Homo sapiens: one gene and its partner. The protein of the gene in region 1 purifies or fractionates together with the protein of each later gene. This does not show direct contact. Each region holds a gene or a part of one and is shown on either strand. Other genes may lie near its edges.

What was found.
Region 2: the proteins of ARHGAP4 (region 1) and CAMSAP3 purify together in Homo sapiens (affinity purification with mass spectrometry, with the first as the bait; one large-scale study listed by BioGRID). This does not show direct contact.

The regions. Positions count from the first base shown.
Region 1 is NC_000023.11:153,923,306-153,927,712, reverse strand, and holds the start of ARHGAP4 (rho GTPase-activating protein 4), read left to right. Parts: upstream 1-1,448; 5' UTR 1,449-1,510; coding exon 1,511-1,577; intron 1,578-4,407. UniProt on the Homo sapiens protein: Inhibitory effect on stress fiber organization. May down-regulate Rho-like GTPase in hematopoietic cells.
Region 2 is NC_000019.10:7,602,358-7,606,158, forward strand, and holds part of CAMSAP3 (calmodulin-regulated spectrin-associated protein 3), read left to right. Parts: intron 1-2,868; coding exon 2,869-3,122; intron 3,123-3,801. UniProt on the Homo sapiens protein: Key microtubule-organizing protein that specifically binds the minus-end of non-centrosomal microtubules and regulates their dynamics and organization.

The DNA of each region.
Region 1 (4,407 bases):
CCCCTTGGCCTGAGGCAGCGGTGGGACGTGTGAGTCTCCCGACCAGGAGCAGGTTGGAGTGTGGGTGCGGCTGTACGCGCTGTGGGCAGGGGCGCAGGCTCTCTAGTCTCGCTGGAGGACTCGAACATCGGTACTTCCGAGACCAGCTGCTGGAAGTCCAGGTCCTGGGTCTGGCTAGCTCCCAGGCCTTGAAGCCCCAGGTCCTGCAGACACACACGACGACGTGTTCGAGAAGGGCCTTGGTACTGGGAGAAGGGGGCGGGGAGCTGAGGGAGTGTTTTTTTCCTTCTGGGCAAGAGAATTAATTGCTCACAGTTGAAAGGCAGGAAGTACCCGCACAGCCTCCCCTCCCCAGATCTGCAGGTCAAGGTCATGTGTGCCCGCATTTGCACAGAGCCTGACTCTGACATCCGTGCACACACACGCCTAGTACCCCTGCACTAGTGCCCCCACGCCCGCCTTCGGAACACACGCCTGGTGCCCAAGTGCCTTGCCTCTCTCCCCACATCTATACCCCAGGGATTTCCCTCCCACCAAATTGAAGCCAGTTGTCTGCTTGGCTTGTCAACCGCCTCCCGCCTCCCGCCTTCCCGATTTCCCGGAGAAAAGCTGCTGCCCTGTGGTAGAGGGTGGAGGAAAGCCCCACCACCCCTGGATGAGGGGGGCCCCAAGACTTGCCCCCAGGGTAGCTAAGACCTCACTCCGAGGGGGCTGCCCCCCTCAGGCCTATGACGGGCAGGTGCAGCTGCAGGGGAAGGGAGGCAGAGCAGTCTCTTCCGGCAGCAGGAAGTGGTAACCGCCTATGGGGAAATTGTGGGGCTGAGCAGAAGGGGAACCGGAGCTGAACTCTCCTCCCCTACCAAGGGGGCCTGGAGGGAACGGCAGCCAGCTGCTGAGGTTCTGCTCTCTGGTGCTGACCTTCCTTCCCCCTCCCCTCTGAACTTCCCACCCCAGCTCTCAAGGCTCCCTGGGGCTCCCTGGGCCTCTCTGGGGGCTGACTTGGGAAGGGAGGACCCCATCGGATGTCTGGGGGAAGGAGGCAACCCAGGGGGAGTCCAGAGCCTGGGGCAGCAATGGTGTTCATGGCCACTGGTACAGTGGGCCAGCGGCCCCGCTGTGAATGGTACAGTCTGGCAGTGGTGACCAGGGACAGCCTTCTGGAGGTGGTGGGATGGCAGCCTGGGATGCCAGCTTACGTTGGGGCTCTCACACCTGCTCCGGCTGCTTGGCAGCGGGGCTTTGGGCACAAGGCAGCCTAGGTGCAGGCCCAATGGGAGGGGACGGCAAGGCCGGGGCACAGTGGGGCTGGAAGGGGCGCCCTGCCCCCCCAGGAGCCCCTCGCGGGCAGTGCCAGCCCTGGGCCGCCCCGCCCCACCGGGAGCCGCGCTGGGGGCGGGGCTGGGCGGAGCCCGCGCAGGGTGCTGGCCGCAGCGCCCCCAAGTCCCGGCGCCGGGCCCGCTCACGGCCGCGTGGGAGCAGTGGGGTTCGACGGCGCGGCCGCGAGGCCGCCATGGCCGCTCACGGGAAGCTGCGGCGGGAGCGGGGGCTGCAGGCTGAGTATGAGACGCAAGTCAAAGGTGAGAGGGCGCCGGGCGCTCCCGGCCCGTTTCCTGCGGAGAACCCAAGGTCGTGAGGGAGCTCCAAGCGTCCCCGCGCTGGCCCAGGGCCCGATGCTCTCCCCAGCGACCTCTGGAGCGGGGGTGGAGGAGGGAGCCTGAGCCCCTTGCCTGCCTCCCGACGCCCATTTGGCCTCAACCGCCTGCCATTTTCCCTTCCTTCTTTCCTGTCTTCCTTCCTTTGGTCTCTGTCCTCCTTGGGTCTACCGCTTCTCACCCAAGGTTCAGTGGAGACACTGGTGGCCGCTGGTAAAAGAGAGCCAGATGCACCAACGTGCCCCTCAGAAGGCAGTATTTTAGCTACAGTGAAGTCAACCAGCTTGATTGGGCTGGGGGGTGAGTAAGGGAGTCCGGGTGAGTGGATTGGTGGAGATCACCTGGCCGTAACCCCACTGCAGTCCCTGGAGCTTCAGCACCTTTTGCCTCCCTTTAGCACTGAGGGGGAGCAGAGGCGAGGGCCACTGTCTCTGGGTCAAGCTGGCGCAGTGAGTCTTGGTTGAGAGATTTAACAGGGCTGGCTTCTCAGCCTTCTGAAATTGAACCTCTGGGTTCTGATAAACACCCATGTGCAAATCACATGCAAATCAGCTTTGCAAATTCTTAGCCAATAGCTTGTGCCCATCTTATTCAGGGCATGGTAACTCTTGCAAAGGAAAGAGGCAGCAGCTCAGTGCCAGCAGCTCGTCCATATCACTCTCAATCACTCCATTTTACCAATTACGGAAACAAGCTCAGAGAGGTGCAGTGACTTGCCCGTGGTCATACAGCACTGCAACTTCTAGGACGTAGAATGCAATGACCCTTGAAGTGCCTTTGAACCCAGAGATGTAGGTTCTAACATCATTATTCAGTGCAAGCAATTTATACCAAAGTATGCTCCAGTCCTCCTTTGGAAAAGGCAGCCTGTGTCCAGAGCCAGCTTGAGGTGACTACACAGGGTGAGCCAGCTTTCCAAGCCTCGCCATCATCTTGCTCAGATGGAGGTAATGATCTCCATCCTGCTTCCCCAAAATGCCATGAAGCTGAAAGACTTGGAAAACTTCAGTCAGCAAATATGGGTCAGTGATTTCACACTGAAAAGTTGGGGTTTCGAGCACGACTGTCTAAGGGTTCCTCACTTGCTCTGGGTCTGCATCCCACACCCTGGAAAAGCTTCCTACCATTCTACAAAGTGGGGTCACTGTCTTGACACCCTAAATTCTCAAAGGTCAGCATAGCGGTGGTTTTGGAGACCATCTTTTCTTCTGTTTTGCTTGTCAGCAGAAGTGAGACCAAATGCCTTGCTCACAGGAAGTGCTGGTGGGGCCCGGGGCCCAGCTCTGTAATTCAGGCAGACATGGATTCCAGCTCTCCTTTTGCCAGATGTTTCCTATACATCTGTGCTGTCCCAGGCCCTGGGAGTATACTGCTGTACCAGAGAGAACCCCGACTCCAGCCCCTCCAGCCCTGGCTTTTTACCCAGAGTAAAAGCAATGATTCAATGAGGACTCCCCTGATTTCAAATGGCGTCAGTGGCCACCCCGCCCTCACATGGCTCACGGGTCTAGTGGGGGAGACATAGACTTTGCATTATGATAATAAGCACTACAAAGGGAAGGAAAGTGCACGGTGCCAAGAAGGGGTCGGAAGAGGGCCAGCCCTAGTTTAGGGGGAGGTCAGGACAGGGTGTGCTGACGAGTTTGTCTGAACTGAGATCCGAAAGCTCTGCCAGGAAAGCCACCAATGCAATCGACTTGCAATTCACAAGTTGCCTGCTCAACACCAGCCGGTGTGCATGCCCGGATCTGGACTAGGACATGGCTTCCAGTCAGCTTTTGCTGCCGGCAGTGATGAAGAAAGGCAGCGGTTCCCTCTGCTGGTTCCTTCTGCACTGTTCAGTTGTCATAAGTCCCCAGGGATTGTATTCCTCTGGGGGAAGCAGGGCAGGGCAGGCTCCAGAGGGCCAGTGAGGCGAGCAGTTGTCTAACACCTTTCTTGGAATGAAATGAAATTTACTTTTATCAAAAAATGTTAAACTGGGCCAGGCGTGGTGGCTCACGTCTGTAATCCCAGCACTTTGGGAGGCCGAGGCGGGCGGATCACCTGAGGTCAGGAGTTCAAGACCCAGTCTGGCCAACATGATGAAACCCTGTCTCTACTAAAAATACAAAAATTAGCTGGGTGTGGTGGTGCGCCCCTGTAGTCCCAGCTACTCGGGAGGCTGAGGCGGGAGAATCGCTTGAACCCGGGAGGCGGAGGTTGCAGTGAGCCGAGATCGCACCACTGTACTCCAGCCTGGGCAACATCCTCCGTCTCAAAACAAAAAATCAAAACAAAACGTTAAACTGATTCAGTGAGGACTCTCCTGATTTCAAATGGCATTAGCGCCCACCCCACCTGGCCTTGGAGCTGACGAGTTAACCACAGGAGGCCAGCCTCGGATAGGATGAAGACACTCTCCATCTGTCTCACTTGGCATCGTGGGCTCTGCCCTGCTCTGTCGGGAGGTCCCGTGCCCCAGGCTTCCACTTACCCAGCTTGATCTGCCGGTGGGAAGAGCTCTCCTGTTCAGTAATTCAATTGGAAGGGTCAGGCTCCTGGGTCCCTCACCTGGCTAGTCTGGTGGGGGCAGGGAGTGGAGGGACAGAGGGATGGGTGACGCATGCAGCCAGGGCTGGGGCACCTGGAGTCAAGGGGGCTGAGACTAGGAAGGGGACATTCTCCAATAGGAGATCAGGGGAGGAGGTAGGGATGCTGGGCAGGCGGAACCCACAGGGTCCCCATGCAACAGCCCCTGGGAAGTCACTGGCGG
Region 2 (3,801 bases), on another chromosome or scaffold:
AGTGTAGCCCTAGCTTAAGGTTTTGGTGTTTTTTGTTTCTTGTTTTTCATCTTAAAGGCCCTGAAAAGTCCTGTAGGAAAGAAACACGTGTGATTTTGCTGGTGGGAGCAAGACGTGCCCAAGGCCGGGGCTGGGGAGGTAGAGAGGAGGGTTTGGATTTGGGAGATATCAGGAAGTTGAAAGCCAAGGACGCATTAAATGTGGGGTGAGGGCGTAAAGAAAGGGAGGGAGGGTGATTTCTCACTGCCTTGGGGGCAGGGAGGAGGGGAGGTGTGGGTGAGATGTTGAGAATTGTGGGAGATGCCCAGGGTGCAGTGGGGCCCGTGGCAGCCGCTGTTGCAGTCTTCAGGTGGCCCTGGAAGCCGTCACGGGGTAGGGTGGCCTGGGGTGGGGGTGGGGCATGTCCATTTACAAGGAGACGCCTGTGGGAGGAAGGTTTCTGGAAGAAGGAGGCACTGGGCACAGAGCCCAGGCGAGATACGGGCCCACAGATATGCTTTGGAGGTCCCTGCTGGCCTTGGGGAGACCGGAAGCCATGAGGGCAGCATCGAGCTCAGGGAAATTGAGGGAGAGGTGGAGGGGGGCTGGGAGGGCAGGGAGGAAGTGAGCCTGAAATACCTCTTCTTTCAAGGAGCCAAGATGAGAGGGGCAAAAAGAAGGTCCAAGTCTACATGCGGGTGGCGCGTTAAGTGGGACGGTCCAGTGTGGTTTTAGAAGGTGGGAAAGGAGCCAGGACAGGGAGGGACAGAAGGCAGCCAAGAGTGCCTGGGTCCTCACAGGTGGAGAAGTCCCGTTCAAATATGTTCTGAAGCACTAGAACCCCTTACCCTGTTCTTTCTTTTCTTTTTTTTTCTTTCTTTCTTTTTTTTTTTTTTAAGACAGAGGCTTGCTCTATCACCCAGGCTGGAGTGCAGTGGCGCAATCTCAGCTGGCTGCAACCTCTGCCTCCCAGATTTAAGCGATTCTCCGGCCTCGGCTTCCCGAGTAGCTGGGATTATAGGCGTGTGCCACCATGCCCAGCTCATTTTTGTATTTTTAGTAGAGATGGGGTTTCACCATGTTGACAAGGCTGGTCTTGAACTCCTGACCTTAAAAGATCTGCCTACCTTGTTTTCCCAAAGTGCTGGGATTACAGGCATGAGTCACTGCACCCGGCCCCCACCCCGTTCTTTCAAACACACACACAGAACCCCAATATACAAAACAAGTCTGGGCACAGTGGCTTACCCCTATAATCCCAGCACTTTGGGAAGCCAAGGCAGGTGGATCACTTGAGGCCAGGAAATTCGAAACCAGCCTGAGCAACATGGTGAGGCTTCCATCTTTATAAAAAAATTTAAAAATTGGCTGGGTGTGGTGGCACGTGCCTGCGGTCCCAGCTACTCAGGAGGCTGAGGCAGGGAGGATCCCTTGAGCCCAGAGTTCAGGTTGCAGTGAGCCATGATCGTGCCACTGCACTCCAGCAAAAACTCAAACAAACAGAGAAGGCTGTGCAGGCTGGGCGTGGTGGCTCACGCCTGTAATCCCAGCACTTTGGGAGGCCAAGGTGAGCAGATCGCTTGAGGTCAGGAGTTCAAGACCAGCCTGGCCAAAATGGTGATAACCCTGTTTCTACAACATACAAAAATTAGCCGGGTATGGCAGCATCGCACCTGTAATCCCAGCTACTTGGGAGTCTGAGGCAGGAGAATCATTCGAGCCCGGGAGGCAGAGGTTGCAGTGAGCCAAGATTGCACCACTGCCCTCCAGCCTGGGCGACAGAGAGACTCTTATCTCCAAAAAACCGCAAAAGCTGTGCAGATTAGAACAAGAGCTGGACAGATTCCCTGCTGTTGATTTCAGTCACCTCTTCCCCGACCCCTGCCAAGCCTTCCTGGCCTTCTCCTCTCCACTCTTGGTCCTACGTGGATTTCTGCCCCCAGCCCACTGTCCACCTGGGGCTTCCTCACGCCTCTTCCCATTGTCCTATTTAGGGACCTCAGGCTGTCTCTATGATGTGACCTCACCATCTCTCTAAGCCCCAGCCTTTCACATAATCTGCCTCAAGGATGTCCTCAAAGCCCCTCACATTCAATTTCACCCCTTCACCTCCCATTCCTCCTGCACCCAAGCTCAGTCATTACCCCTCTCTTCCCTCTTCCCCCTCAGACCCAGCAAGGTCCTGGCTACCTCCCTCTCTGTCCCTTGCCTCCTCCCTTCAATCACCAGGTTTACATCACTCAACTCCCTCGATGTGCCTGTGGTGTGCCCACCTCCCCTGCTCGCCTGTGTGCCCCCCACTCATCCCCCCCTGCCTGCAAGCTAAGAGAGGGCGTCCAGTTTGCTGGGTCTAACCCCAGTCCTGGTGTTGAAGAGTTATTTGGCCTGGGGCAAGGGACTTTCCTTCTCTGTGCCTCAGTTTCCTCCTCTGTAACATGGGGGTTGCCAATTGGGCCCTGGCTGCCTCCTAGCGTTGATGTAAGGCTCAGTGAGTCTACATTGGCAAGAGCAGGAAGGCTCTTAGGATTGCCGATGTTATTGTCTTTCCTGGGACCTACAAGAGCCAGTCCAGCTGGCCTGGTATTGGGGGTAGCCTCCCCTCCTTTCCACTCTAAGTGCCCATCAGCTCCCTGAGGCACCGTGTTCTCTCCCACCTGCTGGGCTTTGCATCTGCAGGCCCCTCTGCCTACAACGCCATCACCCCTTCCTCCAGCAAACTCCTGCACATCTGCACTCTCAGCCCAGATCCCCTTTCTCCTTTCCCAATGCCATCCTCCCTGGTCCAGACACACTCTTAATCCGGGCCATGTGGTGTGTGTGTGTGTGTGTGTGTGTGTGTGTTGTATCTGGTGACCCTGACCCCCGTGTTTCCCCTCTATGCCCCCACAGAGCACGTGCCCCCGGAGCTGTGGGAGCCCTTCTATACCGACCAGTACGCGCAGGAGCATGTGAAGCCCCCGGTGACACGGCTGCTGCTCTCAGCCGAGCTCTACTGCAGAGCCTGGCGCCAGGCACTGCCACAGCTTGAAACACCCCCCAACCCCTCTGCACTGCTGGCCCTGCTGGCGCGGAGGGGCACAGTGCCTGCTTTGCCCGAGCGCCCGGTGCGCGAGGCCGACCTGAGGCACCAGCCCATTCTCATGGTAGGCCCCGCCACTGCCTGTTAGACCACGCCTACCATGCTCAGCTCCTCCCCTCAAGCTCCTCCCGCCAGTCCTGGCTCCTCCCAAGTTCCCTCTATCAGTCTTGGCTCCTTTCAAGCTTTGTCGATTAAGCCTAGCTCCTCCCATCAGGCTTGGCTCCTCCCCCAGGTTCCTCCCACCAGGCCTGGCTCCTCCCCTCAAGCGCTATTAAGCCTAGTTCCTCCCACGAGGTCTGGCTCCTCCCCTCAAGCGCTATCCATTAAGCCTAGCTCCTATCAGTCTTGGCTCCTTCCCTTAAGCTATGTCCATCAAACCTAGCTCCTCCTATCATCAGTCTTGGCTCTGTCCCTTAAGCTCTGTCCATCAAACCTAGCTCCTCCCACCAGTCCAGGCTCCTCCCCTCAAGCTCTGTTCATTAAGCCTAGCTCTTCCCCCCAGCCCTGGCTCCTCCCCTCAAGCTCTTCCCATCAAGCCTGGCCCCTCCCATCAAACCCAGCTCCCCAAAAAGGCGCTACTCTGGCCCTTGAGGATTTGTGTACACAGCCCACCCTATCCTAACGCCTAGCATCTGACCTCAAAGTCCCACCCATCGTGCGTGGCTTTTCCGGGACCCCATTTCTTGTTCCTTCCCTTAAGGCCCCACCCATGAACCACTGGCCCCGCCCCCTCAAGCCCCACC